Linked DNA regions of Homo sapiens. The protein of the gene in region 3 purifies or fractionates together with the protein of the main gene of each other region. This does not show direct contact. Each region holds a gene or a part of one and is shown on either strand. Other genes may lie near its edges. The genes, in order: RPSA2, BTN3A2 and CCDC68.

What was found.
Region 1: the proteins of CCDC68 (region 3) and RPSA2 purify together in Homo sapiens (affinity purification with mass spectrometry; one large-scale study listed by BioGRID and IntAct). This does not show direct contact.
Region 2: the proteins of CCDC68 (region 3) and BTN3A2 purify together in Homo sapiens (affinity purification with mass spectrometry; 2 studies listed by BioGRID and IntAct, with this or other methods). This does not show direct contact.

The regions. Positions count from the first base shown.
Region 1 is NC_000019.10:23,825,442-23,829,097, reverse strand, and holds the end of RPSA2 (small ribosomal subunit protein uS2B), read right to left. Parts: intron 2,884-3,656; exon of another isoform or gene 2,763-2,883; intron 2,029-2,762; 5' UTR 1,937-2,028; coding exon 1,049-1,936; 3' UTR 230-1,048; downstream 1-229. UniProt on the Homo sapiens protein: Required for the assembly and/or stability of the 40S ribosomal subunit. Required for the processing of the 20S rRNA-precursor to mature 18S rRNA in a late step of the maturation of 40S ribosomal subunits. Also functions as a cell surface receptor for laminin.
Region 2 is NC_000006.12:26,368,117-26,371,772, reverse strand, and holds part of BTN3A2 (butyrophilin subfamily 3 member A2 isoform a precursor), read right to left. Parts: intron 3,596-3,656; 5' UTR 3,591-3,595; coding exon 3,506-3,590; intron 3,209-3,505; coding exon 2,861-3,208; intron 1,452-2,860; coding exon 1,170-1,451; intron 1-1,169. UniProt on the Homo sapiens protein: Plays a role in T-cell responses in the adaptive immune response. Inhibits the release of IFNG from activated T-cells.
Region 3 is NC_000018.10:54,900,862-54,904,244, forward strand, and holds the end of CCDC68 (coiled-coil domain-containing protein 68), read right to left. Parts: 3' UTR 648-3,383; downstream 1-647. UniProt on the Homo sapiens protein: Centriolar protein required for centriole subdistal appendage assembly and microtubule anchoring in interphase cells. Together with CCDC120, cooperate with subdistal appendage components ODF2, NIN and CEP170 for hierarchical subdistal appendage assembly.

The DNA.
Region 1 (3,656 bases), on a different chromosome or scaffold from region 3:
CACACAAGCTACATCTTAAGTCAGAAAGTATAATATTTTATAAAATGTGCTTGAAATTGAAACTCCAAAGAAACAAAGAAGGACATCAAAAAATAATAGATTCATTCACAGGGAATCTATGACAAATTTGTGTGTGTGTGTGTGTGTGTGTGTGTGTGTGTCTCACATTAGGGTTCCAAGTATATAAAGCAAATATTGACAGAATGGAAGAAACACACAGAAAGCAATATAATTAGAACAATATATTTTAATACCACACTTTTTGTAATAAAACTAAAACAAGAAAGAATGTTAATAAAAGAACAGACTACTTAAAGGCAGTATAAAACAATTATTCCAAACAGAGTTATGGAGAACACTCCTCAACAACATCAGAATACACACCCTTCTCAATAGCTCATACAACATTTCCCTTGAAAGACCACATCTTAGGACAAAAAGGAAGTCTTATCAAATTTTTTAAAAGTAAATTTCTATGAACTACATTCTATGACCAAAATGGAATGAGAATATACAACGATAAAAGCAAAAAAAAAAAACTGAAAAATTTACAAATATATAGAAACTAAACAACACACTCTTGAGTGTGCTCTTACACAAAGGTTGAAATACTTAATATTGCAGAGTCCATCCTGCTCAATGCAATCTACAGATTTAATGCAATATTTTTCAAATTTCTCATTGCATTTTTGAAGAAATAGAAACACCAACCTCAAAAGTATACAGAGACTCAAAAGAAAAACAAACTACCCAACAATATTAAAAAAAAAAAAAGAAAGAAAGAATGCTGCAGGCATTAAAGTGCCTGATTCAAAACACATTACAAAGCTACCAAATTAAACAATTTGATATGAGTATAAAGGTGAAAAAGTAGACTAATAAAATAGAATGCAGCACATATATAAACTTTCACATATATGGTCATATAAGTAGTCATTTATAGACTCATAATTATTGCAGCATTTTTTTTTTTTTTTTTTTTAGAAACTGATGTTTATTTTCCATCAACCATTTTTCCATGCTGCTTAAGAGCCTATGCAAGAACAGCTTAAGACCAGTCAGTGGTTGCTCCTACCCATTCAGTGGCCTGAGCAGTGGGAGCTGCAGACCAGTCTTCCGTGGCAGGCTGAGCGCTCCAGTCTTCAGTAGGGAATTGCTGAATAGGCACAGAGGGCACCTGTACACCTTCAGACCAGTCTGCAACCTCAGGCTGAGTAGCAGTGAACTCAGGAGAGGGAGCAGTCCATTCACCCTGAAATTCCTCCTTGGTCACTGCCTTCTCAGCAGCAGCCTGCTCTTCTTTTTCAATCTCTTCAGGATCTCTGTAGAAGTACAGATCAGGCATGACCTCCCATGGGTGTTCACGGGAAATGGTGCCACGCATGCGCAGAACTTCCCGAGCCAGCATCCACCACATCAAACCCACTGAGTGAGCTCCCTTGTTGTTGCATGGGATGGCAATGTCCACATAGCGCAGAGGAGAATCTGTGTTACACAGCGCAATGGTAGGTAGGTTAACATAAGATGCCTCCGTGAGAGGCTGGTGGTCAGCCCTGGGGTCAGTAACCACAAGAAGCCGTGGCTCCCAGAAGGCTGCCTGGATCTGGTTAGTGAAGGTTCCAGGAGTGAAGCGGCCAGCAATTGGAGTGGCTCCAGTGGCAGCAGCAAACTTCAGCACAGCCCTCTGGCCAGTATTCCTGGAGGATATAACACTGACATCAGCAGGGTTTTCAATGGCAACAATAGCACGAGCTGCCAGCAGAAGCTTCTCCCAGGTCCTCTTGAGATTTATGATATAGATGCCATCACTTTTCCTTTTATAGATGTAGTGTTCCATCTGGAAGTCAAGATTGGTGCCACCTAAGTGGGTTCCTGCTGCAAGGAACTTAAGGACATCCTCCTCCTTCATTTGCAGGACATCAAGGGCTCCGGACATTGTGAAAGTTTCCCTTTAAGTTACGACGGGAATCCAGAACAACGCCGTATGGACCCCTCTGCAGGTAGCGCGGAAAAGCTGCAGCATTGTTACTGTAAGCAAATAGGTAAAAGCAATGCAAATATCTTTCAATAAATCATTCAGTAGATATAATTTGAAATATAAAAATTCTTCCCAGGCACGGTGGTTCACACCTGTAATCCCAGCACTTTGGGAGGCCAAGGCAGGCAGATCACAAGGTAAGGAGTTCGAGATCAACCAGACCAACAATGGTGAACCCTGTCCTTACTGAAAAAAAAAATACAAAAATTAGCCAAACGTGTTGGCACGTGCCTGTAATCCCAGCTACTCGGGAGGCTGAGGCAAAAGAATTGCTTGAACCCAGGAGGCAGAGGTTGCAGTGAGCCAAGATCGCCCCACTGCACTCCAGCCTAGGTGACAGGGCAAGACTGTCTCAAAAAATATATATATATATTCTGGAATATACTCAGTATTCAAAAGCAGGAAATATTCTACCAACTATAAATATAAATCTTGATGGCATTATGCAAAATGAAATGAGCCAATCACAAAAAGACACAGATTTTATGACATACATGAAGTAGTTATACTGTTAAAAACAAAAAACAGAGTGGTGTTTGCAAAACGCTATAAAACAGAAAAAATTGTGGCCAGGCATGGTGGCCCATACCTGTAATCCCAGCACTTTGAAAGGCTGAGGCAGATAGATTACCTAAGGTCAGGAGTTTGAAACCACGCTGGCCAACATGGTGAAACTGCATCTTTACTAAAAATGCAAAAATTAGCCAGGCATGGTGATGGGCACCTGTAATTCCAGCTATTCAGGAGGCTGAGGCGTGAGAATTGCTTGAACCCGGGAGGTGGAAGTTGCAGTGAGGTGAATCATGCCACAGCACTCCAGCCTGAGTAGCAGAGTAAGACTCCAGCTCAAAAAAAAAAAGAAAAAAGAAAAAAAGAAAAAATTAAAAATTAGTACTTGTTGTTTAATATGTGTTAAGATTTAGCTTTGCAAGATAAAAACATTCTAGCAATATGTTGCATGACAATGTCAAGATAATTGATATGACTAAATATTTAAAAATATTTTGTGGTAAATTTTGTTTTTTTTTGACAAGAAATAAACAATAATAACTAAAAGAGATACAGAGTTATGATAGTTTTAAATTATATTCAAATCCAAAAGTGTTTCTCCCACACAGAAATCATATAGATTTACAAATAAATAGGTTGTTGAAATTATAAAAATTTTATGGGCTGAGCATGGTGGCTCACACCTGTAATCTCAGTACATTGGGAAGCTGAGGCGGGCAGATCACCTGAGGTTGGGAGTTCAAGACCAGCCTGACCAACATGGAGAAACCCTGTCTCTACTAAAAATACAAAAATATTAGCCAGGCATGTTGGCACATGCCTGTAATCTCAGCTACATAGGAGGCTGAGGCACTAGAATCATTTCAACCCAGGAGGCAGAAGTTGCAGTGAGCTGAGATCGCGCCATTACACTCCAGCCTGGGCAAGAAGAGCAAGAGTCCATCTCAAAAAAAAAGAGTATTTTATGATGACTCATCTACGCAGAATTAGAAAACCATTCACAACAAACCTACACAACAAATATACAAGTTAGAAAAAAAATACAAGGATAACATTTATTTTTGTATACAGGAAAACAAACACAGAGATAATTCTATTGGAAAAAGAC
Region 2 (3,656 bases), on a different chromosome or scaffold from region 3:
TGGGAGGCAGAGGCTGCAGCGAGCTGAGATTGCACCACTGCACTCAAGCCTGGGCAATAGAGTGAGACTTTGTCTAAAAAAAAAAAAGACACACACACAACGAAAAACAGAAACCTTTCACATGGATCATCTCATACAAATGCAAGCTTATCTATCAGATAAATTCCTAGAAGTGGAAGTTTGGATCGATAAGTGTGTAGTTTGGATAGATATTGCTATAGAGCCCCCAACAGAGGTTGACCTAATGCACATCAAAAATACAGGAAGTTACATGAGCAAATGACTGAGAGTCACTGCCTTCCTACATTCCTATGAGAATCATGTATTATAAGCCAAAGCAGTTTTGATTTTTGCAAATATCATAAGTGAAAAATTATTTCATATGTTTACCCAGTGAGTGAGAATGAGCACCCTTTTGTGAGTTATTTCCTTTTCTGTGAATTGATAATTCATGGGCTTTGTTAACATTTTTTTTACTTGGTTTCTATTTTATTTTATTTTATTTATTTTTTGAGACAGAGTCTCGCTCTGTAATCCTGGCTGGAGTGCAGTGGTCTGCTCTCACTCACTGCAACGTCTGCCTCCTGGGTTCAAGTGATTCTCGTGCCTCAGCCTCCTGAGTAGCTGGGATTAGAGGTGCACTCCACCACACCTGGCTAATTTTTTGAATTTTTAGAAGAGATGGAGTTTCACCATGGCCAGGCAGGTCTCAAACTCCTGGCCTCAATGATCTGCCTGCCTCGGCCTCCCAAAGTGCTGGGATTACAGGCGTGAGCCACCATGCCTGGCCAAAACTTTTTACTAGGTTTTTAGAATCTCCTTCTGATTCAAGGAGATCAGCTCTTTCTCTATGATATGAGTTTGTAAATATATATATATAACCATTTTGTCATTTCACATTATATAAGGAGCTTATCTTAATGTTTTTCCTCCAATTCCCATTGCCTGTCATACTTTCTGGCAGATAGGAAATGTTCAGAAAATGTTTGTGTTACGAACACCTTTATGGAGGAAAGAAGCTCCCCTGGCACAAAGAGGAGCCTCCAGGTCTGTGCTTTGGGCCTTATATTCAGTGCAGAGACCCAGGTCGACCACAGATATTAACACATCCCCCTTCATTCAACTGCCACAGCTCAGCTCAGAAAACCTGAGGCCAAGCAGGTACTGACCTGCGATGGAAATGCTGGCTGTCTTTTCCAGGCCGAGGAGGGAATTTCTGATGATGCAGGATACACCCTCCCCGGAGCCGCCTCTCATGATCACAGATGCTGCTACTTCATATAGGCCCACTCCATCTGCAACCACAGGTGCTTCCACAGCTGGGATGTTCTCTCCCTTGGCGTTGCTCCACTGTATTTGGGGTTGGGGGTACCAGCCGGTGGACCTGCACTCCAGATGGATCCCTCCATCCTCATAACCCTTCACTTCGACGTGAAGATTAGAACCCAGTGCTGTGGAAGGATAATTTGGCCTAAATTCTGGATAGCTCCTGTATTAGGGAGGGTCTCAATGGGAATCAATGTCAGGCTCAGATTTGATAATTCAAGAGATATTTCATTCAGGAGCTGTTTACAAAAGTGTGGTCATGATGAGGGGAAAACTAAATTTGCTAGTGCAGTATCCCAGGGTCAGAAACAGTGGGGCTATTCCCACCCACCCCAATTACCAGAGGGAGGAGGAGAGGAAGCTGTTTTGAACACAAAAAAGAAGAGATTCATGCATTGAGGACTTCCTTTAGAGGAGCTGTTACCTTCAGCAAGGCAATGCAGCCAGCCTGAGGGTAACTTGCAGTAAGGAAGCCAGTGAATAAGCACCCAGACTTCTTCCTTTTCTCTTCCTCCTATGATTGTCTGCTAGAGATCCCCTTAAACCAAACCTAACCAGCAGCCACAGGGCAAGGGATTGCACTGAGAAAGAGAAAAGCTGTCCCAACATATGGAAACTGACACCGGGTCTCTGTGTCATCCTGTTGAACATAAGCAATTTCACAGAACACAGACAATGGCACTTTGTGACTATGATGGATCATGGGAAAAACAATACCACCCCACATCATATGTGAGCATAGAGAAAAACATGAACATTGTCCAAACCACAGCAGTGACCAAACATCCCCCCTCAGCAATGAGGGATTGCTGCCCCTTCATCAATTACAGCTTTTGTCTCACCCTGGTCTCCTTCTTCCTACATAAGATTGATTAAGGCTCTCACTCAGAATTAACCTGCCCACACCTTCCTGATGGAATCTCATCCAGAGCAGAGGGCTAAGTCTATGAACTCCCCCGGCCCCAATCCCCTAACACAAGCCCAAATTGTATACCAAGTCTGCTCTAACACCTTCTTACTGAGACCCCGCCACAGCTCCCCATGATGTGTGTTCTTCCTCACTGCAACACGTAAGAAATACAGCTAGTTCTACTACAGGAGTATTCCTGGGGATGGCTAGTTGGAGAACACTGGCAGCAGATACAGTCACTATTCCACCTCCCAGGACCCATGGTAGTGTGCACTTGGAGACACAACAGAAGCCATCTGTTACACAACTAAACCAAAATGACTGTGTACCAGTCACTGAAGAGATGGTTTCTTATGCTTCCTATCCCTCGTCCTTCACTTCGCTTATATCTCTGGTGGCCAGAGGAAAGGAGTTCTTTACTTGAGCATGTAGGGTACAGCAGGAATTCTTCCTAAAGGAAAACCTGTGTCTTACTCAAGGGCCTCAGAGAAGCTAAGTTGGGAGGCAGTGCAGGCAATTGCTAGTGAGCAGCCAGGAGTGTCTGCAGTGCTTTTGCAAGAGGGACTCTGCATCTGCTCTAGATCCTACAGAGAAATGTTCTCAGAACAAAACCTGGAGGCTCACCTGCAACCTTCAGCTCCACCAGGGCTTTTTCATAGAAGTCACCATCTTGGAAATAACACAAGTACTTTCCACTGTCAGAGGCTGTGACGTTGTGTATTCGGAGAGCAGCCTTCCCTGCAGTGATGCCATCCCGCAGAATCGAAGTTCTCCCTCGATACGGTGCACTCTGCCTGTCTTCCACTTCCTTTCCATCTGCATACACGTTCACCACCTGCCTTAGGCTGGAACTTACCCACTTCAGCTCCATGGTCTCTGCACTCATGGTCGGGAACAGGTGACAGGGCAGATCAGCGTCTTCACCCACCATGGCCAGGATGGGCCCAGAGGGTCCAAGCACAGAAAACTGAGCTGTCAGCACAAGGGGGAAGCTCCATCAGAGGGTTTTGGAGTTGGGGTCATGAGAGGAAGGGTCCTTCTCAGACAGGGAAGGCGAGATACAGAGAACCTAGAGGGGAACACAATCCTAACAGAAGGACCATTTGTCTCTTTGTGACAGGTGATCCTTCAGGTTGGGATGGACTTCCAGGTATGGGAATGAGTTAAAGGTTCTAAGAGGGCATTTAGGTAATTGTCTGCTTAATTAGGTAATTGAGATAATTGTCTGCTTCAGAAACATAAATGTGGAATCATGGAATCATTCCCTACCTGAGCAAGGAGTGAGCAGCTGGACCAAGAGGAGGGAGACATGAAAGTTGAGCAGAAGGAAAGCCAGGGAACTTGCCATTTTCATCTATGCTGCATATCAAGAGATACCAGAAGGTGTGGGACAGACACTATGGCCTGGAAGAAGCTTTAG
Region 3 (3,383 bases):
CTACTTGGATATTGATGAGGATTCTGTATTTATTTGCAGGTCAGAAGAGAGGTAGAGATGTTCAAAGTAAACATGAATGAATTTGAGAAGTTGTGTGTGTGTGTATGTGTGTGTGTGTTCCTCTTAATTTTATAACTCTTTTTTCAAATTTAGAGTAAAAGCTTAGTAGATTTATTTTATTGTCAATTTAAATCCAAGGAAAAGCAGCAGAAAAATTCAGGAAGCTATTTATAAATCTGTTCACTGACCAAAACAATACATATACTATGGATAATGTTGTCATAAACAATCAGATAAAACCTACTGGTCTGGCGCTGGTGGCTCACGCCTGTAATCCCAGCACTTTGGGAGGCTGAGGCGGGTGTACCACCTGAGGTCAGGAGTTCGAGACCAGCCTGGCCAACATGGCAAAACCCTGTCTCTACGAAAAATACAAAAAAATTAGCCGGGTGTGGTAGCAGTCGCCTGTAATCCCAGCAACTTGGGAAGCTGAGGCAGAAGAATTGCTTAAACCTAGGAGGCGGAGGGTGCAGTGAGCCGAGATTGCGCCATTGCACTCCAGCCTCGTCAACAAGAGCAAAACTCTGTCTCAAAACAACAACAACAAAACAAAAACAAAAAACCACAAAAACCAAAAAACTACTTAATTCATTTATGCATAATTTTAATATAAAAAGAAAACCAAACAATTCACACAATGTAGCATCAATTTTCTTTATGGTAAGGCATATTATAAGCAATTATTCAAAAGATATACTATACTAATTGTTTAAACATTTTATAATGATAATTTGTAACAACATATGTAATCAAGGTAGAACTAAGTTTCTTTTCTTTTCCTGACTTCATGTATGAATTTCAGACCCACCTCAGACCTTCTTATCCAATAAATTCAAGAGTATAATTAGAAGTACATTATTTGGAATAAAACTGAACTAGTGTTTCTTTTCCTATATTTCCTGTGAAGTACTATTTTAGCTGAATAAATATTATTCCCCCTTGTAATCTTGTTTTTTCACTGAGAAGTGTTTTTTTTTTCATAAAAAAATATTTCAAATGATAATTTTATGATAGTGGATATAGGAAACAATCCATACATGACGAATAAATGATAAGGCTGATGGTATTATAAAGACAGCTACTCGGGAGGCTGAGGCAGGAGAATCGTTTAGTTTTGGGAAGGGCTATTATAATTTAACCTATAAAGTAAATTTCTCCCAAAGTTAGCTTGGCCCACACTCAGGAACGACCAAGGGCAGTTTCGAGGCAAGATAGATAGTTAGGTCAGATCTCTTTCACTGTCATAATTTCCTCACTGTTATCATTTTTGCATAGGTGGTTTCACCACTGTATTTCCATGTTCAAAAATGAGTATAGTGAAATCAAAATAAAAACCAACAGTGTCTTTCCACTTTTGACCTTAGAATAAGTTATTCTAATGGAAATCATCAAGATTGTCAGGTCAGTTAAATAAGCCCATTCCAAAATCTGAAATTTATTACAATCCAGCATGATGAATGAGGTATAAAAGGAATCTGGTCTCCTAGTAAAAGATGGATTCTCTTACTACACTGCAAATACTTAAAGCAGGACTCATGATCCTAATTTTCCTACAAGTGTGCCTGAAAATGTATCATGAAGAAATTCTTCAATGTGACATAAAGTCATAAATAATAAATGTATGATAAACAGATTTTTAGCAGGGAAGTTTGTCTGAACTGAGTTCTCACAATGGTAGTCCAGCTGGTGAAAGATCAACTCATTTCAGCAAAATATTGATTTTATCAGTATTTGTTGTTTCTTACTGTCATCCACAAAATAACACAGGCAGTCATCCAGGAAGCTATGTGTTGATTAAAGTGGCAAAAATAGAGAGATTTCTATAGCTGGGAAATTTCTTAGACCACCATGTGAGCAAGTAGAATGAATATCAATAGCCAAGTCAAAAGGTTCAAATTTTTGCTTCACAGTTAGCAGCTGGGCAAATTACTCAACCACTCTCAGTATCTTTCTCTGTAAAACAGGAATAATCTGCTTCTGAGGGCCTTGGGGAAGATAAAATAAATTAATACAAGTAAAGTGCTTAGACTTGTTGCTGGTATAAGGTAACTATGCCCTAAATGTTAACAGATAAATATACCTTCAAAATAAGCAAGCAATAAAAATGTTTCCAAAAATACCATGAAGCGTAAAACTCACACACAGTTACACAACAATTCAAGGATTACAGTACTTGGATAAATTTATAAATACATTACATCATCTCATTTTTATATACCTTCAAATATTTATAGACAACACTGATATTTCACATTCCATAATGAAAGAGTCAGCATCTTTTCTGAGCAAATATTTAAAGTTATACACTAGAGAGGAAGATCAAAGGCCTAAAGGAAATTCATCCTTTAGGGGGACCAAGGTCTCTCATTATACATTTAATTGAAGTTTGTTCTTTCCTGACTGTATGTCTGCATTTCTGCAAGTCAGAATTTGTTCTATTCACTGCAATCACAAACTCCACCTACAAAGAAGGCATGTATCAGAATTTAAGCAAACTTTCACAAATACACTATATATATCTTTCCAATTCATAAATTCAGATTCTTTCTGGCTGCAGACAGCAGTCATTATTCCTTTGAGCCTATAATATATACATTTTCATGGAAGTATGAGCTAACAGCATTATTTTTCTATCCCCCCAATATTTTATTTAGATACTATTAATAACTATCAAGAAGAAAATTAGTCACAAAGGCAGAGGAAACCATGTGCATCCCTGTGCGTTTGTGTGTACAGGTTACCTCTAGAAACCAATTTTTAATCCCAGAACTAAGAAGAACAGTCATTCTCTGATGTGTGGTGAGGCAGCCATGATTCTCAACTTCAGAGGGGCATATGGGTTGGGGAATTAGCTAAAAGGAATCTGCTCTTTCTCCTGCCCATAATTCAGTCAAGTATAATTCTCCCACAAACAATGGATCAGGAGATGAACTTATGTCACTGTACGATCTTTCCTATCATCCAAAAGTTAACTTTCAAATATGTTTGCTCATTCATACATATACATGCCCTTCATACATATATATGCAGGAAATGTATGTTCATTCATACACATATACACTCTCCCTTCTATTTATACTCTTAAAAACCACTATAAAAAAGTCAGAATTGACAATCTTAAAACAATCCCAGTAGAAAAAAAAATCTGAAAACAAGATTCAGATTTTTTTTTTTTTTTAATTTAAAGCAGAATCTGTCTTCCATCATGAGAAGGCACCTGGTTTCTTCAACTATTTGGTAAGTTTTGAAGAGTCCATCCATTAAATATAGATTTGTTTGATTTTCTGAAATGTCATCTTCTTGCAAAGCCATTGGTATGTAAT